Homo sapiens: one gene and its partners. The protein of the gene in region 1 purifies or fractionates together with the protein of each later gene. This does not show direct contact. Each region holds a gene or a part of one and is shown in the gene's direction. Other genes may lie near its edges. The genes, in order: ESD, HMGCL, GUK1 and HEATR3.

Evidence for each region.
Region 2: the proteins of ESD (region 1) and HMGCL fractionate together in Homo sapiens (co-fractionation; one large-scale study listed by BioGRID). This does not show direct contact.
Region 3: the proteins of ESD (region 1) and GUK1 fractionate together in Homo sapiens (co-fractionation; one large-scale study listed by BioGRID). This does not show direct contact.
Region 4: the proteins of ESD (region 1) and HEATR3 purify together in Homo sapiens (affinity purification with mass spectrometry; one large-scale study listed by BioGRID and IntAct). This does not show direct contact.

The regions. Positions count from the first base shown.
Region 1 is NC_000013.11:46,788,195-46,796,482, reverse strand, and holds part of ESD (S-formylglutathione hydrolase), read left to right. Parts: intron 1-3,038; 5' UTR 3,039-3,086; intron 3,087-5,062; 5' UTR 5,063-5,069; coding exon 5,070-5,137; intron 5,138-8,288.
Region 2 is NC_000001.11:23,814,551-23,820,013, reverse strand, and holds part of HMGCL (hydroxymethylglutaryl-CoA lyase, mitochondrial isoform 1 precursor), read left to right. Parts: intron 1-2,430; coding exon 2,431-2,538; intron 2,539-3,243; coding exon 3,244-3,339; intron 3,340-5,463. UniProt on the Homo sapiens protein: Mitochondrial 3-hydroxy-3-methylglutaryl-CoA lyase that catalyzes a cation-dependent cleavage of (S)-3-hydroxy-3-methylglutaryl-CoA into acetyl-CoA and acetoacetate, a key step in ketogenesis. Terminal step in leucine catabolism.
Region 3 is NC_000001.11:228,141,628-228,149,502, forward strand, and holds the end of GUK1 (guanylate kinase), read left to right. Parts: exon of another isoform or gene 1-6; coding exon of another isoform or gene 7-202; intron 203-3,068; exon of another isoform or gene 3,069-3,125; intron 3,126-3,883; coding exon 3,884-3,997; intron 3,998-4,398; coding exon 4,399-4,440; intron 4,441-5,214; coding exon 5,215-5,311; intron 5,312-5,778; coding exon 5,779-5,917; intron 5,918-5,987; coding exon 5,988-6,072; intron 6,073-6,743; coding exon 6,744-6,829; intron 6,830-7,037; coding exon 7,038-7,070; coding exon of another isoform or gene 7,071-7,225; 3' UTR 7,226-7,324; downstream 7,325-7,875. UniProt on the Homo sapiens protein: Catalyzes the phosphorylation of GMP to GDP. Essential enzyme for recycling GMP and indirectly, cyclic GMP (cGMP). Involved in the cGMP metabolism in photoreceptors. It may also have a role in the survival and growth progression of some tumors.
Region 4 is NC_000016.10:50,092,182-50,100,469, forward strand, and holds part of HEATR3 (HEAT repeat-containing protein 3), read left to right. Parts: intron 1-2,523; coding exon 2,524-2,612; intron 2,613-8,048; coding exon 8,049-8,192; intron 8,193-8,288. UniProt on the Homo sapiens protein: Plays a role in ribosome biogenesis and in nuclear import of the 60S ribosomal protein L5/large ribosomal subunit protein uL18 (RPL5). Required for proper erythrocyte maturation.

The DNA.
Region 1 (8,288 bases):
CACCTGGAAGGAGAGGGCATTCAGGTTGCAGGAAAAATAATAGCTCATGTTTGTGTGTGTGGTAGAAGCAGCATTTTAAGCACTACGTGAATTAACTCATTTAATTCCCAGAGCAACCCTATCAAATTGATATATATTACTGTATACCCATTTTGCAGATGGGCAAATGAGGCATAGATTAGCTTGCCCAGTGTCATGTAGTAATAAGTGGTGAAGTCAGGGTTTGAACCCGGAGGGTCTGGCCCCAAAACCTGCTCTGAAACCATTGTACCGTGGCATTGAGTAAAGCCACCCGATAGCAACATCCAGGCCATCCTAGAATTATGCATAGTTGAGTTTAACTAACAAAATAGGGAGTGAGACCAGAAAAATAATCTGGGACCAAATTATAGACCATATTTAGAGCCATGTGAAGGTGTTTGGCGTTTATAGATGCTATATTTTTTTTAAAAAATTTTCCCCAGAGTTTAATAGAAATCCTTACCTAGGCAAGCCATGTGAATTTTTATGAAGGAAAAGAGACCCAGCCTAGGCAGCATGGCAAAACCTCCTCTACAAAAAATTACCTGGGCATGGTGGTGCCACCTGTGGTCCCAACTACTCCAGAGGCTGAGGCGGGAGGATCACCTGAGCCCGGGGGCCGAGATGATTGCAGTGAGCCGAGATCAGGCCACTGCACTCCAATCTGGGCCACAGAGTTTGACCCTGTCTCAAAAAAAAAAAAAAGAAGAAAAAAAAGACTGTGTTTGCACACAGGTAGAGTGTGACTGAAGTTTATATGGAGTTTTATTCATCTATTTTTTCAGTGATCCTGCATGGTTTTAATTTTATGAAATTTTAATGGCATTAAACTTGAAGAAAATTGTACAATTAACATGGTCTTCCATTTCAGTGACTTTCTGGTTCTCAGCGACTGGCCTAACAGCGAAAGGGATTAGTAGTCTCCACCTGCAGCAGCCAGGGGGTGATGAGGCAGTTCTCATCTGCTCATTATTGTGAGCTGGCGAACTGCGTTTTTACATATGACTAATGGATACTTAACACTACTGAAATACACACTTAGGAATGGTTAAGATAGTAAATATTATGTATGTGTTTTTATCACAGTTTTTAAAATACTAAATAAAAATGACTAACAATTCCACGTAGGCCGTATTAGGCTGCAGATGAGCTGTTGGTAGGGATCCGTTGACCAGTAAATTAAGTGGATTAAAACCCTAGGCTTTCATGCAGGATTGATCGTAGTGGGATGTATTAGGAAGAAAGGAAGAGGCTAAGTTTTAATTTCTTATATATAATTAGGATGATGGCAGTGGGAATTCAAAAAGAAGGTAACTTTGAGGCATCTCAAATGTAGATTAGGCAAGACAGGCATGAGTCTGAAAAAGAGAGGCAATGAAAAGAGGAATGGTTTGAAGGTGAGATGCAGAAGCTTAATTTTAGGTGTGGTAAGTTTTAATAGCTGGTGACATGTCTTGGTAGAAGAGTCCAGCAAGAAATGTCATTATGGGTACTAATGCTTGAGAAAGATTGGTTATAGAGATGCAGATTTAGATTATTTCACCCAGAAAATGTAGTTGAAATTTAGGGAATGAGGTTTAGGGAAAGAGTGTGAAGAAAAAAGAAAAGGGAGGTGGGAGGAGACAGAGTGAAAGGGAAGAAGCCAGATCCTGAGTTTTCACTGAGAAGAGGATTTGAACAACACAGTGGTGGTCAACAGCAGTTATTGGAACTGTAGATTGTTGGTTTTGGGAACACCTGTCTAGGTTGTTAAGAGCCAGTGGAATAGGACATCCTGGAAATGAAGAAACATCAAAATCCAAGGAATCTGAGAGAATGGGAACAAAAAAACACATGTAGAGATTTATGGAAAACTTGAGACACAGGGGAAGAAGGATAAAAATAGAACTCAGATTTCTGGAGGTGGATGACATTTAACTTTAATAAGTAAAGGGCCCTGTCTCTACAAAAAATTAAAAAAAAAAATATTCCAGTGTGGTACGCACCTGTAGTCCTAGCTGCTCAGGAGGCTGAGGTAGGAGAACACTTGAAGCTTGGAGTTCTAGGTTACACTGAGTCATGATTATGCAACTGTACTACAACCTGGGCCACACAGCCAAGACCCCATCTCCAAAAAATAAAAAATAAAGGGAAGAACAGTAAGGTTTGACCTTTAGGGGAATGGATGTATTATGCACTGAGAGACCCTTTCTTCTCCAAAGAATGTTGATGTTCACTAACATTTGGGAAAAATTGTGTAACTCCCACTGGCACTGTGAAATTGTTTTTCTGTTTTTGTTGTTGTTGTTGTTGTTGTTGTTTTTTGGAGGGGAAGGAGGAAGGGTGTTGTTTGGTTTTTTGGTATTCCACCCTACTCTGTCACCCTATTTCTCCCACAAAATCTGTTCTAGAACCTAAATATATATTTGTTCTAGAGCCTAAATGAAATCTACCAGATAAGTGACATGATATATACTATGTAAGTTTCCATATATATTTTTCTTACTGAATATCAGTCACTTCATCGTTCATAAGCCCACTTTTCTTATACATCCTTTCTAGTCACCCTAGTAGTAGTCCTTCAGTCCTCATCTCTTCCCTTCTTTCTCCCCATGTTACAAGTTCGACTTACAACTGAGCCAGATAGATCCATCTTCCTCTACTTACCTAGTCCCCACTCTTATTTTCTTCACTCAGGAGTTGACTACATCTCATGCTTCGAAATTACACTTGAAAACTTTGTTTATTGATTTAAAAAGATAAAAAACTTTCATAGTACTTTTACTTCAGCAGATGGTTTTGACCAAGTACCAACAAGCTTTATGGCAAAATAGGTATTAAGGTGGCCTGTGGCAAATAATTAGATTATGGGCAATTAAGGTAATTAAGTGGTGATGTGGTATCCCATCAGGGTGTACAGTCATTTACCTCAAAAGAAGAAAACATCTCTATTGAGAATGCATATGCATATAAAAGCTCTGTATAACCTTTGCTGTGAAAAGTATATCCCATTTGTAAACCATTGGTGTTTTTTTCAGAATCGCCTACCATTTGGTGCAAGCAAAAAGCAATCAGCAATTGGACAGGTAAACTTGTTTTATTGTTTATATGTTACTCTGAACATTGAATGAAAATACCACTAATAGCTTGTTTTAAAACGTGCTATTTTTCACATAGAAAAATTCTATTGAAAAATATAACCACCTATTATAATGTATCAGATATCATAGTATATCACAGTATGTCATATCTAGTTCTTAGTTTATGTCATATTTCTTGTTAAGCCTAACATATTTTTTTGATTTGTAATTAAAGATAGTTTCTAAAATGGTGGGTAGAAAAAATACTTTAAAAGCTTTGTTTTTTAAAAAATATTCTACCAACTTTTAAAAAGTGTTTTAATCTTGTTTCTTCTGGCCAAATGAAAAGCATTTGATTTTGAATTTTAAGAGCAGAGAAAACTGACAACTTGAGGTTTATTAAAATAGACGAATAGCAAAGATACAGACTCCTATGTACCAGATACGTGCTCAGTGTACCATCTTTTGCAAAGTGGATATAGTCCTTTCTAAGTTTAAGAAAATCTGGTTTCCTTGTGGAATAATGGAGCAAATAAATTTTATTTGTTGGTCTCATATATATGTATTAATATATTAAAATTAGTATCTCTCTCTATAAGTTCATTATTTAAGATAGGATTGTTAACAGTAGCTAAAGTTAATATTCAGTAACTAATAACATCTCATGGGAGTTTATTGTTTAAGAATTAATCTTTTATAGATTAAAAGCATAAAACTGAGCAGATGGTAATTTCTTTGTGTACAGTTGTAATATCATAATTCTATAGAATCAGTTATCTTAAAGTGTCTTAAAAAATGAGTATTTAAAGAACCTCTAGAGAGTCAGGACAGCATAGCAGTTAAGAGTAGGGCTTCTGATGTCAGACTTCTGGGTTCAAATCCCAGTCTTCCAAAATAAAACTATTTGGGTTTATTGAAGAAATTAGAGATAAGATTGAAACTAATTTTTTAAAGTATTTTATAAAGACATTTCCAAAATTAGCTTTTTAAGATTATTGTTATACATCTTTGAAAGAGTAATCCTAAAGCTCCAGCTGATTAGCATGTAGTAGTGCATTTCTCTGAGAAGATCACCAGGGTGGTAATACCTGTTCCTGATATCTAAAGCTTTTTCTTCAATATGTAGGACTTACTGCCTTATATTCTAATACAGTGTTTCTAGGAATAGAAAGGGAATCTTTCTTTGAGAGGTACATGTCAGAATCAGTGTGGTTTCCCTTTGCTTAATAGGCATTTATGATAAAGATAGTTTTCCAACTTTTTTCCTGTATTTATCATTAAAAGCAATAAAATATGTCATTTTACATGTAAGTTTAAAATTATTTTTACATGAAAACAAAAGATTTGTTGGACAGAAAAGAAGTTAACAGGCTTGTTTTACTTATTGGTTTGTTTTAAAAGGAGAAATAAATGTTGATCTTAAAGTTTCATATCACTTTCTCTTAAAAATTCATGGGATGAGTAATTGGATCTGGTTTAGTGTCTAGAAAAATGTGTATCACACCGTAAGTGTTCAGTAATGTTACATATTATTATTACCAAAATCATTATCACATCTTTCTTCCATTTTAAAATCAACTATAATCAGTCATACCAATTCCTTGACTACTTTGTTGCAGTTGATAGGCAGACTATTAACAATTTTTAATCTTCTAAACTAAGGTAATTAATTGGTAACTTATGTATTTTCTGCCTCTTTTAAAAATAATTTGGGGCAGTCCACCACAACGAAAAAACTTGTTAATAAATTAGTAATGATATACCAAAGTATGAAAGCTTTTAAAAGTGAGTAACAAGTGTAAATGCATGTATGAGCGTTAATCAGTTTCTTAATATTATTTACTGGAGAAAAATGTGAAAAAAAAATTCTAAGTAGAAAATAGTTGTATGTTCAGATAATTTATCTGAAGGCAATTAGTTTTGTTTCAAGTTTTTCAGTAACTAATTCTCTGGAAATTAATGAGATTACTCTTTACTAATAGGAAAAGAATGGCATTGAAGCAGATTTCCAGCAACAAGTGCTTTGGGGGATTGCAGAAAGTTTTTGAACATGACAGGTAACTATTAAGAAGATATAATTTTAGATACCTCATTCTGTTGGATTATTTTGTTCTATTTTAAAACCAATCTTTATCTAGATATTATAGTACCTCATTTTACTTTTAAACTTGCTTACTCTCTTTCTGTGGTTATGTATTTGACAATTCTACCAGACTTAATTAACTGTGGATGTGATTGTGTGAGGTAGAGCCTTAACAGAGAAGTATCTTCAAGCTTTGACATGATGCTCTTCTGAAACTTTATGAAAATGCTTATGTTGCCAGTAAAAATTCTGAAAACATTTTCTTTGAGGATCTCTAAGTGTAGGAAAAACACCTGGACTTTTTGAGAAAGATGGCACACTAAACACATGCATTTGCTTCCGCTGCCTCCAAAACTCTGACTAACATGGCATTAAGTAAAGAGATTAAACACACACGCACACATACATATACCTATAAAGGCATAAAGAAGCAGGAGACAGGAGCTAAGAATAACATTTTAGAAGCAGGAATACAAATGGAGAGGTAGTACCTGACTTAGTAAAACCTAGAAAGCTACATTCTAAACATAAGCAAGAAAACCTGAGAAATGACACAATTTATTTAAAGCCATAGTAATTGGAGGCACCAGGGACCCCTGAAAATAAGGATAAAAGTTGAGCTTAGAAAAAAGATTAATTGAAAGTCTGTTTTTAAAAGGAGATAGATCTGAGAGTGTCCCAGCTTTATGGACTGCCTCTTCCTAACTCTGGGAAAGATTGGAGGTAAGTTCTCTAGAGAAAGTAAACTGTTTGTACTGGGGAATACCAGACACAATTAGTGGGATTGTGATACTGCAAATAGATTAAGCAAAAGTTTGCACACTGAGTTTCTTCCACTAGCTTTCAAAATTTGGGGACTTAGTCTTATATCCTTTAGAAGAATTTCTTTGTGGGGAGTTTGAGTAGCCCAAAGGAAGAGATTTCAAGATACTGAGATTTGCCAACAAAGTAACCTAACCAGACCTTACAGTAAAGCAATGATTGACAACTCCACCTGTAGGCACAGTGCTTTCAACTAGATTTTTAGTGTTTCTCTCTTAAATAGGAGTGGACAGCTAAAGATCACTAGACATTTGTATAAAGTCTTTAATTTGATATGAACTTCTCTTCATATCAAAGTATAAAAGATATTGACCTCTTGACTTCATAGGATGCTATTAAAAAATATTCAAGTACATGGCCAGGTGTGGTGACTTACACCTGTAATACTAACACTTTGGGAGGCCAAGGCAGGCAGATCACCTGAGGTCAGGAGTTCGAGACCAACCTGGCCAACATGGTGAAACCCTGTCTCTACTGAAAAAAAAAAAATATATATATATATATATGTACAAAAATTAGCCAGGCATGGTTATGCACACCTGTAGTCCCAGCTACTTAGGAGGCTGAGGCAGGAGAATTGCTTGAACCTGGGAGGCAGAGGTTGCAGTGAGCTAAGATGGCACCACTGCACTCCAGCCTGGGCGACAAGAGCGAAACTCTGTCTCAAAAAACATAAAATAAAAAAATCCTCAACTACAAAAAAGCCTAGACATTTAAATTTTGGTAGTAGAAATGACAAAACTCAATAGAATGGTTAGTTGAACATTCTAGAAAGTAAAATAAGATAAAAGTGATAAATCAGAAAGGACAACAAAATTAGAGGACTAGTCCAAAAATCCAACATTAAAAGTTAGGAATTTTGGAAAATAGAACAGAAATAGAGGTATAGATATAAATAATAAATAATTCAAGAATTCCCAGAACTGAAGTTGCCAGATTTAAAAAGTTGTCTAGTACAATGGATGAAAATAGATCTACACCAACAACATAGTAAAGTTTTAGAGTGTTGGGAACAAAGAAAATTCTCAAACATTGAGAAAAAGAGAAAGTAGATTAAGAATTTTTCAAAGGTTTAGGTCAGCTCAACGGTATTACTAGAACTAAGAAGGCAGAGCAGCAGTGCTTTCAGGATTCTGAAGGATAACTTCTATGTCCAACCATATTGTCAATTAAGTGAGAGTAGAATGAAGATGTTTTCATATATGAAAGGTCTCAAAGTGTATTTCCCATGCACTTTTGGAAGCAACTGAATAATATGCTTCACCAAAATGAGGGACTAAAGCAAGATAGCTGAAGGCATAAGATCCAAGAAAACAGATCAGAGGAGAAAGAGTTTCCAGATGAGTGGAGCTATATTAAGGCAGCAACTAGAAAGCAGCAGGTCAAAAGTTGGAGATGGTAGCCAGTAATTACATGTAGCCATTTACATCAAATTAGCTAATTAATAAAACTTCAGTCCCACTAGCCACATTTCAGGTGCTCAGTAGTCACATGACCAGAAGCTGTTGTACTGGACAATACATAGATAGAACATTTTTATTAATATCACTGTAGAAAGTTCTGTTCGGCAGTACTGGTCTGAAGGGGTTTTTTTAATGTAGATGAAATTGATAGAACTGACTGTATTAGAGAGGAAATTTATGAAACCAATCAGGGTTGGGGGAGTTTGGTATTGAATTAGTGATACATGCAGAGTGACCACACAAATATCTGTGCATGAGATTGTATTCTTTTGGTAATTGAGCAACATCTTAATGACATGATAGGGACAGAGGTTTCAGAAGATTGCTTGATAATCCTGTTGTGTTTTTTTTTTTTTTTTTTGCTTTTACATAAGTGTTAATCATACCACTGTTGAACATACTTTAGACCTGATTTATTCCACAACTGCTTGAGAAAGGTCCTCTTTTAAAAATTTTGTTGTAATAACAAAACAACATGAAATATACCCTCTTAACAAATGTTTAAGTGTGCAAGAAAGGTCTTAAGGCACCAACCATTCTGTAACAAGATTATGTTCTCTTGATTTTACGTATTGATAACAGATATCCCTGCATTGAATATGGATTTGATATAGTATTATAATGAAAGTAAATGTTTCAGCTTCCCTAACAAAAGTTGAAAACCTAAAAACAAATGTCAGAAATTTTTTGTGCCGTCAGTCATCAACAAGAAAAGTTGCTTAGAATAATGTGGAAAAAGAAAATCACCAATATGCAGAGAATGGAAAGGAGCATACAGAAAACTTCCCATGATGGGGCCTTTGTGGGAGTCTATTCCTAACAAGGAAGGATAACCAGTAA
Region 2 (5,463 bases), on another chromosome or scaffold:
AGAACAGTTGGAAACAACTTAAATATTTAGTATGAGGAAAGTTGGGTCAGATACACTATGGACTTTTTATAAAATGAAATATTATGAAGCCATTAATAACATAGGTATATATAAAGTGACTCAAGCAGTTTATAAAATAGTACATGTGACTGGGCATGGTGGTGGCTCATGCCTGTAATCCCAGCACTTCAGGAGGCTGAGGCAGAGCACGATTCTGTCTCCAAACAAAAACAAATAGTGCATGTGCGCGTACGCACGCGCGCGTGTGTGTGTGTGTGTTTTTGGGAGATGGCATCTCACTCTGTCACCCAGGCTGGAGTGCAATGGCGCAATCTCGGCTCACCTCAACCTCCTCCTCCCGGGTTCAAGTGATTCTCCTGCCTCAGCCTCCCGAATAGCTAGGATTACAGGCCCCTGCCACCATGCCCAGCTAATTTTTGTATTTTTAGTAGAGATGGGGTTTCACCAGGTTGGCCGGGCTGGTCTTGAACTCCCGACCTCAGGTGATCCACCTGCCTCAGCCTCCCAAAGTGCTGGGATTACAGGCATGAGCCAATGCGCCTGGCCATGTATTTTTTAATCTTAACACTTTTATGTAAGAAAAAAGTTTATATATGTATGGGAGCATTTATCTAGACTAGGACCTAGACCAGCACTTTCTGTGAAGATGGAAATATTCTGGACCTGAGCTTTTCCATGTGGTGGCCACTATACCCATGTGGCCCTTGAGAACTTGAGATGTGACTAGTGTGGCCAAGGAATTGTATTTTTATTTTTATACAATTTTTATTAAATTTAAATAACCACATGTGACTAGTGACATATTGGGCTGCACAGATCTAGAAAGTTACACACCAGGGTGTTAATAGCGTTATCACTGGGAGATTCTAAGGGTGGTTTTCTTTTGTTTTTGGCATGTTTTTCTGAAAGAATCATATATTGATTATTTTTTCAATAAGAAAAGCTTTTTTCTTTTTCTCTTTTTTTTTTTTTTTTTTTTTTTTTTTAGCACGTCCATCCTAGCTTTAATAGTGAGTGCTTGTTGGAAACAATAGTGTGTAAGTTCCCGAAGGGCAGAATCCTGTCTGTTCTGCTTCTGCTTACTGCTATATCCCCGGCACCTAGCACAATGCCTGCAACATGGAGGGCTTTCAAAAATTATTTGACAGGCTGGGCATGATGGCTCATGCCTGTAATACTGGCACTTTGGGAGGCTGAGGCAGGCAGATCACCTGAGGTCAGGAGTTTGAGACCAGCCTGGCCAACATGGTGAAACCCCATCTCTACTAAAATAAATGAGCTGGGGTGGTGGCATGCTTGTGTAATCCCATCTACTCTGGAGGCTGAGGCAGGAGAATCGCTTGAACCCGGAAGGCGGAGGTCGCAGTGAGCTGAGATTGTGCCACTGCACTCCACTCTGGGCAATACAGTGAGACTCCATCTCAAAAAAAAAAAAATTTTGTGGAAAGATTAAGTTAGAGCAGTGGGAGAGAAACTGGAGAAGGCAGGCAAGGGGAGGACCTAGCGAGAAGGACCTGGAGTATTTTTGTGTGTTCTTTTTGTTTGAGACAGGGTCTTGCTCTGTGTCACTCAGTGCAGTGGCACAATCATTGCTCACTGCAGCCTCGACTTCCCAGGCTCCAGTGATCCACCTCAGCCTCCTGAGTAGCTGGATCACAGACACGTGCCACCACGCCTGGCTAATTTTTGTATTTTTTGTAGAGAGGGGGTTTCGCCATGTTGCCCAGGCTGGTCTCAAACTCCTAAGCTTAAATGATCTGCCTGTCTCAGCCTCCCAAAGTGCTGGGATTACAGGCGTGAGCCAATGTGTCCGCCTGGACCTGGAGTTCTTAGAATTTTTTGCGTAATCCTGTAAATATTAGGGAGCCATAGAAAGCTTTTGATGCAAGAGAATGGAAGGTTGGAAGCTGCATTTTAGGAGGATTCCTGTGTAAGATGAATTAGTGGCTTGAGACTATGCCATGTTATATACAGGATAATGATGGTAGATTTGGAAAGAGGAATCCATGGAATCTGTTGAGCTACTGGACATGGTGGGGAGGAAGATAAAGAAGCTATACGCTGAACACATGAGGCTGAAGTCCTATGCCAATTGGGAGACAGAAGCGAGGAGGGTGTGATACTTTGGGGGCCCCATCCCATACTCCCCAGAGGGTTAGTCATCTCTGCCCTTTCAGGCCATCACACATTGCTCTCAGTTTGTTTATGATGGGATTATAAATTAACACACATTTACTTACGGGAAAGCCTGCATGGCAGAATAATGTTTCTATGTAAATAACTCCTTTTCAGGTGAGAAGCTGCATCCACTGCAAAAAATTATCTATAGTACTTGAACTAACAGGTACTGCATTTTGAGGCTGTTTTGTTACTAACTTTGCTGCCTTGGTGTTTCTCTCTCCACTATAGAATATCGTATCTACTCCAGTGAAAATCAAGCTGATAGACATGCTTTCTGAAGCAGGACTCTCTGTTATAGAAACCACCAGCTTTGTGTCTCCTAAGTGGGTTCCCCAGGTGAGCCCTAGCCCTCAATGAAAGGCCTTTCTCTAGGGATGAAAAGTTTTGCATTTGCCTTTGAAGCAAGTAGAAGTTGAGAACATAGGTTTCCAAGCCCCTGGCTTTGAGAGGTCTCAGGTGATTCATAGCACTGTGTTGCAGCAAAAGAACATGACCCAGGATTCAGGGCCTTGGGTTCAGTCTTGGCTCTGCTCTGACTTGCTCAGTGACATTGCTAAGGCCTTCCCCTCCTCAGTGTTAGAGATGACCTCTTCTAGCCCTAAAGTCTAAAACCCTCTATGCCTGTCTGTGGTTTCTTTGTTTGTAAAAGAGGAAGACTGACAACTCCTGCTTCACAAAGATAGTTAAGTGAAGAAGAAACATCCTGTTACAAAGGAGTGCTTAACACAGAGCTGAGCTCAGTGCCTGGCCCAGAGTACATTCTCAATAAATGGCTGGTAGTAGTATTCCTGCTGTTTCTGCATATGTAAAGCTGGCAGTATGGGCCATATGGAGAAATTGGGATCTCAGCCAAACCAAGGGCCCTTCTGAGCCATCAGCAGTCAAACAAACAGTAAAAGTATTGGAGAGACTCAGCTCTGCAGAAGGAATTACTCGCTAAGAGTTCTGGAGAACAGAGGTTTTGTGATGAAAAGGTTTTCTCTAACTGAACTCTCTGTCTGCTCTTGGTGATGACTTGGCAATGTCTCCCTTGGTTCCTAGATGGGTGACCACACTGAAGTCTTGAAGGGCATTCAGAAGTTTCCTGGCATCAACTACCCAGTCCTGACCCCAAATTTGAAAGGCTTCGAGGCAGCGGTAAGAGGATAGCTTGTTGGTGGGGGCTCCTGAAATGAGATTGATGGCATTGGTCCCTGCCTTGTCTTGGCGCCTCAGTCCCCTGTCCTGGGATGTCCATCTGAATAGCTTGTCTGTCAGCCAGACCCTGGGGCAAACCTGGCCCTGCCACTCACTGCTCTGTGATCTTGACAAGTTGACAAGCCTATAAAATAGGGCTAAATGATAGTACCTGAAGTTGTGAGCATTTCAGAAGATAGGATGCATGTACATTGCTTAGCAAGAGCCAGATAAAAGGTAACTGCTTAATAAATGTTAGCTCTTTTGATTATCCACTTCTTTAGAGAAATGTAACCAAACTCTCCACAAGAGTTTCAACAGTAGTTGCTGGCATCTGCCAACTTTCTTACAATTTTAGACAAGAACATCTTTGGAGGCGTTGGTTCTGTATTTAGGCAAAAACCTTTTTTTGGCTGGGCACAGTGGCTCACACCTATAATCCCAGCACTTTGGGAGGCTGAGGCCGGAGAACAGCTTGAGGCCAGAAGCTTGAGACCAGCCTGAGCAACATAAGGAGACCTTGTCTCTACAAAAAAAAAAAAAAAAATCAATTAGCTGGCTGTGATGGCATGCACCTGTAGTCCTAGCTACTCGGGAGACTGAGGCACAGGATGGCTTGAGACTAGGAGTTCGAGGCTGCAGTGAGCCATGATAATACCGCTGCACTCTTCCAGCCTGGGTGACACAGCAAGAAAAAAAAAAAAGCTTTTTCTCAAGAGTGACTTCCAGGGTGGTGATGGCAGTGGTGGTGGTTTCCTTGGGGAAAATCAAAGTTTTTTTTTTTTTAATTAAGAGAAATTACTGTGTTTGTTTCCTAGTGCTACTGTAAGAAAGCACTACAGGCCGGGCGCGGTGGCTCACGCCTGTAATCCTAGCACTTTGGGAGACCAGGGCGGGCGGATCATGAGGTCAGGAGATCGAGACCATCCTGGCTAACACGATGAAACCCCGTCTCTACTAAAAATACAAAAAATTAGCCAGGCTTGGTGGCAGGTACCTGTAATCCTAGCTACTCAGGAGGCTGAGGCAGGAGAATCACTTGAACCCGGAAGGCGGAGGTTGCAGTGAGCCAAGATCATGCCACTGCATTCCAGCCTGGGTGACAGAGCAAGACTTTGTCTCAAAAAAAGAAAAAAGAAAAAAAAAAAGAAAGCACTACAAATTGGGTGGCTTAAAAACAACAGAAATTTATTCTCTCACAGTCTGGAGGCCAGAAGTCCCAAATCAAGGTGTCAGCAGGATTGGTTCCTTCTGAGGCCTCTGGGAGAATCTGTCCTATGCCTCTCTGCTGGGGTCTGGTGGTGGCCAGCAGTCCTTGGCATTGCCTGGCTTGTAGATGCATCTCTCCAGTCTTTGCCTCCGTTTTCCCAGGGCCACCTTTTCTGTGTCTCTGTGTCTTCACTTGGCCATCTTTTGTTTTTGTTTTTTTTAGACAGAGTCTTGCTCTGTCGCCCAGGCTGGAGTACAGTGGCATGATCTCGGCTCACTGCAAGCTCCACCTCCCAGGTTCAAGTGATTCTCCCACCTCAGCCTCCCGAGTAGCTGGGACTACAGGCGTGTGCCACCACGACCGGCTAATTTTTTGTATTTTTAGTAGAGATGGGGTTTCACTGTGTTAGCCAGGATGGTCTCGATCTCCTGACCTCATGATCTGCCCGCCTCGGCCTCCCAAAGTGCTGTGATTACAAGCGTGAGCCACTGCGCCCGGCTGGCCATCTTTTTTTAAGGTCACCAGTCGTATGGGATTAGGGGCCCACCCTATTCCAGTATGGCTTCATCTTAACTAATGATATCTGCAATGACGCTGTTTCCAAATAAGGTCACATTCTGAGGTGCTGGGTTTTAATCCTTCAACATATATTTTTAGGAGGACACAATTCAACCCATAACATTCACATAACATAAAATTTACCTTAAGAGAAATTTTTTGCTACTCTGTGTCAGTGTTCTTTAAAGAGAAAAGTGCTGGCCGGGCATGATGGCTGACACCTGTAATCTCAGCACTTTGGGAGGCTGAGGTGGGTGGATCACAAGGTCAGGAGTTCGAAACCAGCCTGACCAACATGGTGAAACGCTGTCTCTACT
Region 3 (7,875 bases), on another chromosome or scaffold:
CTTAGGATGGCTGGAAGCCAGAAGGAGGAGATTATGCCGCCACAGCAGGGAGTGCCTTTCCAGGAAAGCGGCTGCTGGGGCAGCATGGGAGCCCAGTCCAGGGAGCGTTCTGGCAGAGACCATTCCGGAACATGGATCTGCGCCGGCGGCTCCCAGGAGACCTTCCATCTCGGAGCTCCTGTGGAGACCACGTGCCTGGCAGGTCCTTACAGTTGTGGGTTGTGTGGCTTCTTGCCAGGCAGCTGATTGGAGTTTGCGACTGTGGGTTGGTGAGAGTGGAGAGCACAGAATGTTTGCTGGAATGCTTCCCTCTGCCCACAGGAAGACACCTTTGGCGCATGTGTTCTGGTCAGGGCAAAGGCTCCGTGGTTTCCACCGCAAGATTGCAGGAGCCTTGAGGCCTGGGCCACAGTTTTCTCCCTTGGGTGTGCTCCATGGAAGGTGGCTTTGGTGACCGCCCTGCCACTGGTCTCTCCCCAGGCAGGCAGGCAGCCTGTGCCTCCGCCCTGTCTCCAGCGGTGGTGGTGTGGCTGTGCTTCTGCAAGGCCCGCATCCACTCACTGTCTGCCCTCTGCACTCTCTGGCTGGCCAGGGCCCCCAGTAGTCTGCTCATTGTGCCCTCACGCTTGGGCAGAGCCGAACTCAGGGGACCCAGGAAGAGCGGAGTGTTGGCCCGTCCAGAGTTCTTGGCAATTGGTGTGTCATGTGTGCCTCGTGCCCTGTGCTGGGCGAGAGTGGGCACAGCTGCGCAGACAACGCCCTTGGCGAGGCTGGAGCCTGGACCCCTGCCTGGCAGCAGCTGGGTGAACTGGTGTCTTCTGCCTGCGGGCCCAGCCTCACCTCAATAGCTTACTGCTCCCTCAGGAGGGAGGAGGGGAGGCCTGGGAGCCTGGGCTTGGCGGGGTAAGGGTGGTGCAGGGGCAACACCTGTGGAGGAAACAGGCGGGGTTGGGGCCCACCAGCGTCTGCTGTCTGCTCTGTGCTGGGTTGCATCTGTTGGTGTCTGATCGTTGTCAGGGCCCTGTGGTGAAGAGACACACCTGCCACTTGCTGCTTGCGAGGAAAGGGGGAGATCCCCAACCCAGGAGCCAGAGGTGGGACTCCAGCACCCCCCATTCCTGGGAGTTGGAAGTGAGGCACGAGCTCCCCAATTCCTGGGCATCGGGGATGGGGTTTGGGGCCGAGGAGGGGATGGAGACCAGGGTCTTGTGGTAGTTTGGTGGGATCCTCAGAAGGTGTGGCTCTCCCCCTTCTGAGGACGCAAAAACTCCCAGAGTTTTTGGCGATTGATGTGCCACGTGTGCCTTGTGCCCTGTGCTGGGCGAGTGTAGGCACAGCTGTGCAGACGACGCCCTTGGCAAGGCTGGAGCCTGGACCCCTGCCTGGCAGCAGCTGGGCGAACTGGTGTCTTCTGCCTGTGGGCCCAGCTTCACTTCACTAGCTTAGCGCTCCCTCAGGAGGGAGGAGGGGAGGCCTGGTCAGTGGAGGTCACCACTGTGTTTCCTTCTGTGTGGGTTTATAGTCACGTAGCATCTAGGTTCAGACCCGAAGAGCTTGGAGCCAGGGGCTGGGGGGAACAGGGCAGGACCGGCCTTGGGGCAGCCCTGTCAGGCCCACCAGTGCCATGCTGGTTGTGGGTTGGCAGGGCAGAGTGACCTTAAGAAGGGCCAGCTCAGTGGAGCAACAGGACAGAAGCTCACATGGGGTCCAGCCCACAGGACCATTTGAGTAGCTCTCCCATATCGGGTCCTTCGAAGCACATGATTTAGCTTTACTTTTTCTCCTTCGTATTAGAAAAGTCACCATAATACCATCAAGTCATAATTTCTGTGATCTCAGTGCTTCAAGTAGGTGTGTAGCAATTGCTGGATGTGTCCTGAGAACTGTACCCCTTCCACCCTGGCGAGAAGCAGGGGCCAGAAATTCACACAAGTGGCATGGCTCATTGATTGTGGGAGACTCTGGGGGGCTCCTAGCTAGTGCATTATGGGAACCAGGCTGTGGAGGTTGCAGGGCTCGCTGGCTGGGAGAAGCTGAATGGATAAAGAACCCTGGCCACTGCAGTGCGTGCTGATGGTTGGCTGGCACGTAGAGGAGGTGGCAGGGCTGGGTGAGCAGCAGGAGCCAGGTTAGTGGGGAGGCCCGAGCTAAGCGCAGGGGCAAATTCTGCGGGTGGGAGAGCCAGGAGGGCATGGGGTGCATGGTGAGATGAAAACGATGTGTGCTTGTGACAAAAAGCCCAGAAGAGGCAGTAAGGAGGGAGGAGTCTATCCCTTATGGAGAGCACATGGACTTCTGGGTGGGTGTCCTGCAGTTCCCTTCCTCTTGAGTCTTTTTAACTGGGGGTCCGGTGTGTTTGTGATCAATGACATGTATGCGTGTGCATGTGTACCTTTGCAGGTACACATGTGTGGTGTGTGTGCATTTGCTTGGTGTGCGTGCATTTGTGTGTGTGTTTGTGTGTGCATGCATGTGTGTGTGTTTGTGGTAGGTTTGTGCACACATCCTGCATACCTTTGTGCCTGGGAGTGGCATGTGTGTGGTGGGTGTCGCTGTGCATGATGGAGTTGCAGCCGTGGTGCATTTGTGAGATTACCTCGGTGGCCTAAATTGGGGATTAGGAGGGCATCCTCAGGTCCTTCCCACTGTCTGCTCGTCTGCCCACAGGCGGCTGTGCCCTAAACAGGAGGAGGCCATTCACGCCTCGCCTGAGTTGTGTCCAAGGTGTGCGTGTGGCCAGGGGTCCATCCGCTTCCCTCTAGCCCAGCCCCTGAACACAGCTGCAGTGCACGGCCCCACTCCTCAGCTCTGCTCCCCATCCCAACTCGAAGACGCTGCCCTGGCCCTGTGTGTGCAGCTCATGTGGACTGGGAGGGCAGGGCAGGTGCAGGTCTTGGGGCAAGAGCTGGAGCTGTCTTTTCCTTCCTGCACAGCCGCAGAGCAGGTGGATGGGGCTGCTTCCCTGCAAGGGCCCAGGGCCAGGCCCCCTGGGGATTTATTCGTGGCTTAGAAGGGTGGGGCCAGAAGCAGGCGTAGTGGGGATTAGGGACTCAGCACCCCCAGCTCTCAGTCCAGCAGACAGACCCACCCCAGGCTGACTACAGAGGCTGCACCTCAGCAAACAGGTAGGCCCTGTTCTTGGGGAGGATTCCCACCAGGCAAAGGCCAGCTCCCGGGCCCTCACCTGCCACGTGTCCAAGCTAGGATCCTGTTTGCCTTTCCCTTGGGGGCTGGGAGGGAGGCCTCCAACCCCCTCTGGCATTACCAGCATCACAGATAGGAGTCCCAAGTCCTATGAGAAGTTCCTGGAATAGGTGTAGATTCAGTAGATCTTTACAAGACCATATCTGCAGGGCAAGGTACCAGAGGACAGAGGCGGGGACAGGGACACTTCCATTCCAGACCTAGCAGCCCAGCACTCAGCACCATGCATGGGAGCAAATGGCTGGACTCCTGGGTGGGGTGGGGGTCTCAGAGCAGGCTCCCAGAGGGCTTGGAGGTGACTCCACCAGGTGGGGACGGCAGCTCCCAGGTAGGGTGTCATCAGAGTAGACAGCATTGCTTGCTAGGGACCCCTGGGGAGGCTGACAGGGTCAGTGGGTTTCAGTTGGGGGGCTCCCCTGCTGAGAACCCAGTAAAGCCGGCCTTCCATTCGTCTCCCGTGTGCCCAGAGCCTGGTCTGAGGGCCGCCCTGTGCATGCCGGCCCTTCCAACGTGGCAGAGCTCAGGGGGAAGAACACCCAGGCTCTCAGGAGACTCTCAGGCCAATGTCTCCATCCCTGGGTCAGCCCTTTCCTGCCATGAATTCAGGAAGGCAGAGGCAGCTCAGCAGATGGGGACTAGAGGCCGCACTGCTATCCACAGCCTCTCTTCTCACCCCCAGGCATGTCGGGCCCCAGGCCTGTGGTGCTGAGCGGGCCTTCGGGAGCTGGGAAGAGCACCCTGCTGAAGAGGCTGCTCCAGGAGCACAGCGGCATCTTTGGCTTCAGCGTGTCCCGTGAGTCCAGGGCTCTCGTGGAGGGGTGCGTAGACCTCAAGGCTGCTGAGTAGTCCTAGCACCGTGAGCAGGCCAGGAGCCCAAACCCAACAGGCACACCCACCCTGCAGACTGTCCGAACTCTTGCACACTCCCCCCCACACAGAACCTGAGGTTATCACACTCCTGCTGTCCTGCGTGCCTGTGTCTCCCTTCCCTGGGTCTGTTGAGTACTGATAACTGGGCCACAGTGTTTCTTTCTGGGAGAACCCTCGCCTTGTAGGCTCCTGCGCCTTCCCAGTGGTGTGCTTCACTGGCTGCCTGCATCCTGGGGCTCAAGTGCTGTCGGGACTGCAAGGGAAACGCTGGGTGGGGCATTGGGCTCCGAGCAGCCCCCGATGGGTGACAGGTCTCTCTGCTAGATACCACGAGGAACCCGAGGCCCGGCGAGGAGAACGGCAAAGGTGAGTGGGGTGGGGCCCTATGGCTGGAGCACCCCCAGTGTGGGCAGGGCTGCTGGGCCCTGCAGCTGTGTTGGCTGTGCTGCCCGTCTCCTGCCCCCATCAATCCCTAATCTGTGAGATGGGTCCTTGCCTCCAAGGGCCGGTGAACTCAATCAGGGTGTCAGCGCCACAGCGTGGTGTCGCCTTCCTTGGGTACAGTGTGAGAGGCCGGCCAAGGCCTGGGGCTGTCTTCCTCCCACCTTGGAGGCGGCCACAGTGCTGCTGTCCCCAGCCCTGTCCTGGACTCGGCACTTATCAGCACTTTTGAGCTGTCTTCTGGAGTCCTGGTAAAAAGGGCTACTCTGCCTGCCTGATTCAAGACAAGGGACCCCCTTCCCAACAGCACCCCCGCCCCTTGCCGTGCAACCCAGTGGTCTCCAGTCACCCCACCACATCGTCCCCTCTGTAACCTGACGGTCTCCAGTTCCCCCACCACCTTCCCCCAGAACCTGTTGGTCTCCAGTCCCCACCCCATCACCACCAACTCCCAACTCCCCACTGGAACCCAGCAGTCTCGTATCTCCATCAGTGAGGACAGTGTGAGAAATGGTGTCTGGCTCAGGCACTTGGCAGCACTTGAGGGGTCCTCAGATGTCTCCTGCCCAGCAAGGATCTGACTAAAGCAGTCGTGGGTGTGGGAGGGGCCTGCAGGCATGCCTGGGTTGGGGGCAGCTGGCCCTGGGCACCCTGGTGCAGGTCCAGTCTGCCCTCTGGATGGCCCCTCCTCTTCCCCAGATTACTACTTTGTAACCAGGGAGGTGATGCAGCGTGACATAGCAGCCGGCGACTTCATCGAGCATGCCGAGTTCTCGGGGAACCTGTATGGCACGAGGTGGGCCATGCGTGGGTGTGGGTGGGCTCCCAGGGTTGCTGTTGGCAACAGGGATCCAGGTAGTGCCTGCTGCCTGCCCGCCATCCACACCACCCACCCCATGGTTATGAATGTGGCCAGGTTGTGGCCCAGGGCCAGGCTCCCACGTCTGTGGCCCACAGTGGCTCTTTTCATGAGGCTGCTGGGCCCGGTCCTGCCACCGTGCATTGTCCTGGCAGGGTGAAGGGTGCACAGGACACCTCATGCTCACTACAGGCACCTTGGGGAGTGGGTGGCCTCTGTTCCCTGTAGGCGGGGCAGGGCGTGGGGGTAGCAGGTTTGAGATGCTGTCGGGTGCTGGGTCCAGGCCAGGCCTAGGCTCAGCTGTGGGAGGAGAACGCTGGGCCCGGGAGGGCCTGGGTGTCCCTGAAGCTCCTGTAGGCCTCAGAGAGCCCTGGCACCCCTGCTGACCTGGCACCTCTCCCCAGCAAGGTGGCGGTGCAGGCCGTGCAGGCCATGAACCGCATCTGTGTGCTGGACGTGGACCTGCAGGGTGTGCGGAACATCAAGGCCACCGATCTGCGGCCCATCTACATCTCTGTGCAGCCGCCTTCACTGCACGTGCTGGTGTGTGCTGGGCAGGGTTGGGGGCTGGGGGCCAGGGCATGCCAGGCTCTGATTGCCACCCCCTTTTTAGGAGCAGCGGCTGCGGCAGCGCAACACTGAAACCGAGGAGAGCCTGGTGAAGCGGCTGGCTGCTGCCCAGGCCGACATGGAGAGCAGTGAGTGTGCCGTGGGATCACCAGGGAATGCCAGGAGGGGAGTCAGGGTTCTGAGGTCTGTGGCACCAGGGACCCTGTGGGTCCCCAGACCTCCTGACACCTGGAGTCCCTGTGAGGGTCCTCAGACCTCTCAACTACCTCCCAACACCTAGAGTCCCCGTGAGGGTCCCCAGAACCCACCCCCAGTCACCAAGGGTCTCATTGAGGGTCCTCAGATTTCCCTCTGTTACCCAGAGTCTCCGTGAGGGCCCCCAGACCCCCCATCGCCCAGGGTCCCATGAGATGTCCCCAACCTTCTAGCCCCGGGGGTGTCATGTGCATCCTCTTACAGCTGTTGCCTCTTCTCTGGGTCTGACTGCAGCCCACAAGAAGAGGGCATTTAATGTTCTGCTGTGTGTGTAGAGGATAGTGTAGCCCCTAACCAGAGTCCTGATGGGTGCTGGTGTCCAGACCCAAGTTCTGGGGCTCCAGAGAGAGCAGGAGTGGTGCCTGAGGACTGAGGCCCAGGGGGCGGCCCTTCCCTACCCTGCACAGGCCCGGCTGGGCTGGAAAGCTGTCCCACAGCCGCAGTGAGGACAGCCGCAGGCCAGTGGGCTGCTCTGGGGGTCGTGTGGGACCTGGGGTGGGGCTGCATGGGCTCACTGTGCCCTGACCCCAGGCCCCACCCACAGGCAAGGAGCCCGGCCTGTTTGATGTGGTCATCATTAACGACAGCCTGGACCAGGCCTACGCAGAGCTGAAGGAGGCGCTCTCTGAGGTGGGCCCATCCTTGTGCCTACCTGGGCAAGGCCCAAGGGGAGGCCTGGGGGCCAGGCCTTTGTTGTCCATGAGGCCACTGAGGTTAGATGGGACAGTCCTACCCAAGCACTGGCATGAGACACCGAGGTCCACGGTGGAGGGAGAGCAGGAAGCCCAGCCCTTCCTGGATACCAGCCCTCCCAACTCCCTTTCTTCCTCACTGGCAGGAAATCAAGAAAGCTCAAAGGACCGGCGCCTGAGGCTTGCTGTCTGTTCTCGGCACCCCGGGCCCATACAGGACCAGGGCAGCAGCATTGAGCCACCCCCTTGGCAGGCGATACGGCAGCTCTGTGCCCTTGGCCAGCATGTGGAGTGGAGGAGATGCTGCCCCTGTGGTTGGAACATCCTGGGGTGACCCCCGACCCAGCCTCGCTGGGCTGTCCCCTGTCCCTATCTCTCACTCTGGACCCAGGGCTGACATCCTAATAAAATAACTGTTGGATTAGAAACTCCATAAATGAGTGGAATGTGGCCCCAAGGTTGGTGGGGCCCCATCATCCCGATCGGGCCCTGAGCTCCGGCAGCCCACCCTAACCACCAGCCCCAAGGAGGGCCACAAGATGGCCTCTGCCTAGGCATCTGCTGCCTGCCGGCTCGTGGCTGCTGCCCCAGGGCAGCATGATGCTTGACTGGCAGGCAGGGAAGGTGGCAGGGCTGGTCCCAACCCACCTGGCAGGCTGGCAAGTGGGGAGCAGGAAGCGGCTGCATGGGGCAGCCTGAGGCTGCAGGGGTGGGCCCTGAGGGCTGCCTCTTGGTGCCCGACCCTGTGGGTCTGGCATGGGCCAGAGGTTCCAGGAGAGGCCCCTGAGCTCTGGCAGCTGGAGGTTCTAGATCTCGAGGTCTAAGGGGTTCCCTGAGGGAGATGCCCCTCCCCTAGCTGCCCCAGGGGCTGTGTGTGGTGTGTGAGGAGCCTCCTCTGCTCAGGCTGCCTCCCTCCTTCCCCAGTGCTCCCCCAGCTTGCCTGTCTAAGGCAGCACAGGGCCGTGCTGCCAGCCACCCCTAGGG
Region 4 (8,288 bases), on another chromosome or scaffold:
AAAAATTAGCTGGACGTGGTGGCACGTGCCTGTGGTCCCAGCTACTCGGGAGGCTGAGGCAGGAGCTGATTGCTTGAGCCCGGGAGGTCCAGGCTATTAACAACTTCACTCTGATTTTTGAGTGCCTGTTAGGTACCACGTTTTATGAGACAGCCCTTGTTACTTCATTGTCCTGCTGAGGAAGCTGAGATTTAGGAACCTTAGCTGAGAGGTTAAGGAACCTCTTCCAGGTCATTCTTTTTTTTTTCTTTTTTCTTTTTTTTTTTTTTTTCCTGAGACGAGTCTGGCTCTGTCGCCCAGGCTGGAGTGCAGTGGCGCGATCTCGGCTCACTGCAAGCTCCGCCTCCCGGGTTCATGCCATTCTCCTGCCTCAGCCTCCTTAGTAGCTGGGACTACAGGCGCCCGCCACCACGCCTGGCTAATTTTTTTTTTTGCATTTTTAGTAGAGACGGGGTTTCACCGTGTTAGCCAGGGATGGTCTTGATCTCCTGACCTCATGATCGGCCCACCTTGGCCTCCCAAAGTGCTGGGATTACAGGCGTGAGCCACCGCGCCCGGCCCAAGGTCATTCTTTTAGCTTGTATTTATTGAATGCTTTATGTCATACACTGTTCTAGATGGTAGGGATGCAGGCGTGAACAAGATAGGCCAGGTCAATATGTTCGTGGAGTTTGCATTCTAGTATAAATAAATGTTTTATGTGATATTAGCTATGAAGAAAAAAGTAAAAGCAGAATGATATGAGGCGTTACACTAGGCCAGTTAGTGTGGAAAGGCCTCTGTGAGGAGGTAACATTTGAGCCAAGACTAAAATGAAGGCAGGAGGAGTCACATAATTATGTCAAAGGCAGCTCTCTATCCTAGGGCTGAGTGTGTAAAGCTCTCCTATTATTCTGTGATCATTACGGGAAATCCCCTATTTTGGTACATAATACATATCTGAAAATGAAAGAGCCAAAAAATACAATCAGCCGGGATTAGAATTTGAACAGAAGCTGCCTCTCTTCTACCCGGGTAACCTAAAAGTGGGGGATCGGAATGGTATAAGTCCCAGGAACTGTGGGGCAGGAAGTGAGTGTATCTATTGCTACGTAACAAGTTATTCCAAAACTCTGTGACTTAACAACAACAACAATCATTTATTATTTCTCGAAGTTTCCTTTGGTCAAGAATTTAGACAGGGCACAGTGGAGATGGCTTTTTCCTATTCCACAATGTCTAGGCCAGTGGTTCTCAACCATGGCCACTTATCCCCTCCCACCTCCCACCTGGGGACATTTGGCAACGTCTGGAGGTATTTTTGGTTTTACAACTTGGAAATTGCAACTGGTGTCTAGAGGGTTGAGGCCAGGAATGTTCCTTCACATCCTACGGTGCCCAGGAGACCCCTGCGCACACATAAAATGAAGAATTATCTGGTCCAAAATGTCAGTAGTGCAGAGGCTGAGAAATACTAGTCTAGGGCCTCTGCTGGAAGACTCGCAGAGTATGGGCTGGAATCATCCGAAGTCTTGTTCACTCACGTGTCTGGCAGTTGGTGCAGGGGTTGTCAGGAAGAACACCCACAGTGACCTCTTCATGTGACGCAGGCTTCCTCATAACAGGATGGCTGGGTTCCCAGGGCGGAAGTCGAGAGAAAAAAGAGCATGCACACATGCGTCAGGGCTGGAAGTCATACTGCCTTTTGTGACCTAGCCCGTCACTTTGTATTCTGTTGGTTGAAGAAGTCACAAAGTCCCACCCTGATTTAAGGAAAGGAGAAGTAGATTTCACATCTTTATGGGAAGTGGCAAGGTTCTTGAAGATCACACAGGACTTGAAATATTGCCATGGCCATTTTTAGAAAATACAGTCTACCACACCAAGCAAATCTCTTCCCATCAAAGAGGTTAAGGAGCCAACTCCCCTGGGTGACCCTCACTGTCCCTTGCACGTGCCTGTGCCAGCATAATGGCTTACTGCTGGTGTTCTGTTTGTCCCGTGTGGGAAGAAGGGACAATAAGAAAAGTGTGCGAATAAGGAGTAGGAGTGGGAAGGGGATGCTGGGTCAGTTAAAGTGATGGTGCCATCATGTCCTGGCTCTGCACAAGCAACAGTGTGTGGCTAAGCAGTGGGCTTGGGTTGGCAAGGAAGCATTCTGACTCCACCAAAGGTAGTTCTACCCAGCACCCTGATGGAGATCTATGAATGACAGAATTCAGTCTGCAAAAGCTAGCTTAGGTTTATTATGTGCTGAAGTGTGAGTCAAATGAAAACCCAGTGTCTGGAAGTCAAGGACTGTCTGTAGAACACCTCCTTGCTGTGATTATTTTAACCACGATCATCTTTCAGACTTAGGTATAGAGTGTACAGGGGGCTGTTAACTAAATATTTTGGCTTAAATATCGAGGGTTTTTTTTTGTTTGTTTGTTTTATTAAGAATAGCATTTATTAACATTTAGCATGCTTTGTTTTGTTTGTTGCTTCTACAAAATAGCCTATCTTGGAGAAATGCAAATTTTATATTTCATTTTTGTGTTTTAGATTTTGCTAAACATGTTGACTTTCTAGAAGCCATAAGTAGTGCTTTGAGGGCCCTTTTGCAAACAATGGCCTCCAAGAACATTTCCCAGGTAAGAGTTTTAAAATTTTTTGTATGAAACTTGTAAAGATTGTGTATTATGGAGGCAAAATTCATTACTTCACTATTTTAAAAAATACATATTTCTGTTACAAGAATAATATGTGATCTTTGTAAAAAATAAAACAAAAGTGATTAAAATAAAAAGTAATATCTTTCTGCTCCCTACCATCAGCAACACACAGGTGCTTTTAATTTAATTTTTTAAATTTTTTAATATATAGGCTTACTAGCAAAACAAGTGCTTTTTAATCAATACAACTTAATTGATAGATATGTTGTAAATAATTTCTCTATCATTGGTCTTTTTTTTAAATCTTTTTTTTTTTTGAGACAGAGTCTTCCTCTGTCGCCCAGGCTGGAGTGCAGTGGCATGATCTCAGCTCACTGCAACCTCTGCCTCCTGGGTTCAAGTGATTCTCGTGCCTCAGCCACCCAAGTAAATGGGATTACAGGCATGCGTCACCACAAAATTTTTGTATTTTTAGTAGAGACGGGGTTTTGCCGTGTGGCCAGGCTGGTCTTAAATGCCTGACCTCAAGTGATCCACCCACCTTGGCCTCCTAAAGTGCTGGGATGACAGGCGTGAACCACCGTACCCAGCTTTTTTTTTTTTTTTTTTTTTAACATTTCATTACAGACTTTGCAAGCATGCCCTCCTGACCCTTCACAGCAATCCATGTGCACTTCATCTCCCATAGGTGCCTTACCACTTTTGCTACTTTTTACTAAGGAGACTTTTAAACATTCCTAAAAGCAGAGATAATAATGTTGCTTTGTTTTTTGAGACGGGGTCTTACTGTGTTGCCCAGGCTAGTCTCCTGGATTCAATCCTCCCACCTCAGCCTCCCAAGTAGCTGGGATTACAGGTGTGCGCTACCATGTCCAAAGCAGAGATAACCCTATGAGCCTGCATGCACCGTCGCCAAGCCTCAGCAGGTTATTAGCGTCCTGTCATTCTTGTGACATGGTTTCATTCATCTCACTGGGTCCTTATTTTTGTTTCCTGGAGTATTTTAAAGCAAATCATATTAGACCCATCAATATTTTATTATGTAGTTCAGTATGCATGTCTGACAGAAAAATAAATTTTTAAAAATCTTAACCCCAGTACCATTACCCCAAGGCTCCAAATTAACGGATATTTCTTATTATCCTTTGGTTTGCACTCTGAGTTCAGTTTTCCCAGCTGCAGTCTAAGTTCAGTTTTCCCAGATTGCCTTAAAAATGTATTTTAACATGGCCAGGCACGGTGGCTCACACCTGTAATCCCAGCACTTTGGGAGGCTGAGGCGGGCAGATCACCTGAGGTCAGGAAGTCAAGACCAGCCTGGCCAACATGGTGAAACCCCGTCTCTACTAAAAATACAAAAGTTAGCTGGGCATGGTGGCGCACTCCTATAATCCCAGCTACTTGGGAGGCTGTGGCAGGAGAATCACTTGAACCTGGGAGGCGGAAGTTGCAGTGAGCCAAGATCATGCCACTGCACTCCAGCCTAGGCGATAGAGCAAGACTCCGTCTCAAAAAAAAAAAAAAAAAAAAACAGAAAAAGAAAAAAACGTCTTTTAACAGTTGGCTTGTTCAAATCAGGATCTAAGCAAGGTTCATGTGTTGCTTTTGGTTGATATTTTGGTCTCTTATTATCTCTAAAAAAAATTTTACTGAGATTTGATTCACATACCATGCAGTTTATCCATTTAAAGTATACAGTTCAGGCCAGCTGCAGTGGCTCACGCCTGTAATCCCAGCACTTTGGGAGGCCAAGGCCAGTGGACCACGTAAGGTCTGGAGTTCAAGATCAGCCTGGCCAACGTGGCGAAACCCTATCTCTACAAAAAATACAAAAATCAGCCGGGCATGGTGGCAGGCACCTGTAATCCCAGCTACTTGGAAGGCTGAGGCAGGGAGAATTGCTTGAACTGGGAGGTGGAGGTTGCAGTGAGCTGAGATTGCACCACTGCACTCCAGCCTGGGCGACAGAGGGAGACTCTGTCTCAAAAATAAGTAACTAAAGTGTACAATTCAGTGGTTTTAGTATATTCTCATATTCTTAAATCTCTTAGTCTATAGCATTTCCCTCACTCCCCTCCTTTCCCCATACACTTACCCATTGAAGAAACTCTCATTTTGTTCCGTAGCATTTTCTGCACTGGCAGATTTGGCCAACTCATCATGATGGCATCGTTCAGCATTCCTCTGTCCCCCATGTTTCCTGTGAGCCGGGAGCTAGGTCTAGAGCCTTAATTAGATCCAGGTCCAGATTATTTATTTATTTATTTTTTGTATTTATAATAAATAATCTAGACAGGTCCAGATTTTTTGGCAAGAATAATTTATAGTGCTTTATATATTTCCTATATTTATATCACAAATCATATGATATTATAAAATAGTGATGCTGAGATTAATTAGTGGGTTCACATAATGGTTTTATAACCAGTGATTGTGGTTGCCTGGCTCCATTATGTCATTAGTGGGTTGCAGAATAGAGATACCCTAATTTTGTCTTTTCTTTTTTTTTTTTTTACATTTATTAGCTATGATTTTTTTTTTTTTCAGAATAGCTATCCTAGCAATCTCTATAAGTGACCAGTGATTTTTTTTTTTTTAGTATCATTTTGAACTCAGGGTTTTTTATATATTTGTATTTCATTCCATTATAGTCATGCTTTTTGCTGCCAAATTCATCCCATCTTTGGATAGTAGGAGTCCCTTCAAATTGGCTCCTGTGCCTCTTTTACAAGAATTTTAGGTTTTTGATCACTTTTGCTTCCAGGCATAGGATGTCCCAGGTTCAATTTGTAATTTTCTTGCTTAAAACCTGGAATCTGGCCAGGCACAGTGGCTCATGCCTGTAATCCCAACACTTTAGGAGGCTGAGGTGGGCGGATCACTTGAGGTCAGGAGTTTGAGACCAGCCTGACCCACATGGCGAAACTCCGTCTCTACTGAAAATTCAAAAATTAGCTGGGTGTGGTGGCACGCGCCTGTAATCCCAGCTACTTGGGAGGCTGAGGCAGGAGAATCGCTTGAAGCCAGGAGGTGGAGGTTGCAGTGAGCCAAGATTGCACTGCACTCCAGCCTGGGTGACAAGAGTGTGACAAGAGTGAAACTCCGTCTCAAAAAAAAAAAAAAAAAACCCTGGAATTAGTTACTTCTCCAAGAAGCTCTGATTTCTTTAGTGGGGAAAGTGAATTGTGGAGTGCTTATTGCTATCATGTTGCCATTGTTTCTAGGTCTTTTTAGTGGAAATAGCTAGGAAATAGGCATTTTTTTAGGAGACAAAAATAGTAAGTTTATCCTGATAATTTCCAGTTTAAATAAAAAATGGTACAATATTTTTACTTAATTTTCGATTTTGTATTTCTATCTTTTTGTATCCCCCAAAAAGATACATTTGTACCCAAAAAGGTACATTGTACCCAAAAAGATACATTAGTGACATTAAAATTCTTATTTGCAGCTGGTCTGATGGTAGTGGGTTATCAGGACTTATTAACATTAGTGTCACTGAAGTTGGTATACAACCCCCCACGCTAAGTTTGACTGGCTTTAAAAATAATAATAAATAGGTCGGGCACGGTGGCTCACGCCTGTAATCCCAGCAGTTTTGGAGGCCGAGGTGGGCGGATCACAAGGTCAGGAGATCAAGACCATCCTGGCTAACACAGTGAAACCCCGTCTCTATTAAAAAATACAAAAAATTAGCCGGGTGTGGTGGCGGGTGCCTGTAGTTCTGGCTACTCAGGAGACTGAGGCAGAAGAATGGTGTGAACCCAGGAGGCGGAGCTTGCAGTGAGCCAAGATCGGGCCACTGTAATCCAGCCTGGGCGACAGAGCGATACTCCGTTTCAAAAATAATAATAATAATAAATAATTTAAAAATTAAAATTAGAGAAAAGAAAGAAAAATATTTTTCAAAAATTTTATTATTTGCTTTCTCCTACAGAATGTACTTTGTAGTAGTGACATTAAAAGACATTAAAATTATTTGCTATACAGTGATATTAAAATTGTTTGCTGTAGTAACATTAAAATTGTAGTGACATTAAAACTATTATTTGCTTTATCCTACGGAATGTACTTAATAGTATCAAAATAACAATGCTCTTGTTATTGCCAATAACACTATTTCTTTTTGCTTCTTTATATAATTTTTTTCTTAATGCTTTTAAAATTTTTTTATACTTTATTTTTATTTTTTAGTTTTTTAATAGAGATGAGGTCTTGCTATGTTGCCCAGCCTGGTCTTAAACTCCTGCTCTCGAGTGATCCTCTTGCCTCAGCTTTCCAAAGCTAAGAATTTTTTTGAAGAGCATAATTTGACCCTCAGTTTCTAAGAAGTAGGAATGGTAATGGGATGCATAGCCTGCCATGTGGCTGTTGGATGGACCAGAAAACCTTATACTCTAGGGCCTATAGGAATATCAAGTATTTTTATTGATTTCCCCTGGTATGTAAGCAGCAGCTTATGGGATCAGTGTGATGGTTAAGGAAAATTACTCAAAGCCCATGTTCAGGGCCAGGTGCAGTGGCTCATACTAATAATCCTAACACTTTGGGAGCCTGAGGCGGGAGGATTGCTTGAGCCCAAGAGTTCAAGAACAGCCTGGGCAACTTTGTGAGACTTCATGTCTACAAAAAATAAAAATACATTAGTCTAGTGTAGGGGCTCACACGAGTGATAAGTAGTGAAGCTAGGATTTGAACCCAGGGTTCAATCTCCAGATTCCAAGCCTTTGTGTCTGGCTCCAGATTCCAAGCCTTTCATCACTACACTGTGCTGCTGCTTATAGGAGATAGTCTCACTCTGTTGCCCAGGCTAGAGTTCAGTGGCACAATCTCAGCTCACTGCAACCTCTGTCTCCCAGGTTCAAGCGTTTCTTGTGCCTCAGCCTCCTGAGTAGCTGAGATTGCAGGCGTGAGCCACCGCGCCCAGCCTTAAACTGAAAATTATCCACTACATGGTAGAAGCACCATATAATGTAATGGTTTCTACAGTCTTTAATTATGATAATACAGATATCTCAAAGTAAGTTCTTACCTTGTATAGACTCAGCCAATTTTTTTAAAACCACACAATCCTATTTATACTTTCAAAGCCTTTTTCTTACCATTAATATTAAAAAGGAATTGGACTCTCTTTAGTGTGTGTACATCTGGAATGAAAGTCTTCATCAAATTAAATGGAGCCCCTTTGATATTAGATAACAGTGCCGACATGAGCAGGGTTCACCTTAGTTCAGAATTACCAGCTCTGTCTGGGAGAACTGGAATACATATTAATAGTAACTTACCTGCCAGGAGTTTATGTCACTCTTAAAATCCTGTAGCCTATAGAGGAGATTCCTGTCAGTCCGGTTTTCACATGCTGATAGAATTAATTGAGTTTAACATTATAAATACTGTCCTCTTCTCTTTTAACAGTGCATGACTCCTGATCAGCTGATGACATTATGCAAAGCAGGCATTCATAGTAGTAATGTCGGGGTTAGAGTGAATGTCGTTAGCATTTTAGGAATCACTGGCAGCGTCCTTGCCAAAGAAGATGGTACACTTGAAACTCTTAAGGTAAAACAATTTGCTTCTGACCTAACATGTTAAATAATTAGAAATGGGAGAAGAACTGTTGGTGTAGGATTTCTTAAAACTTGTGTGGACTTGAAG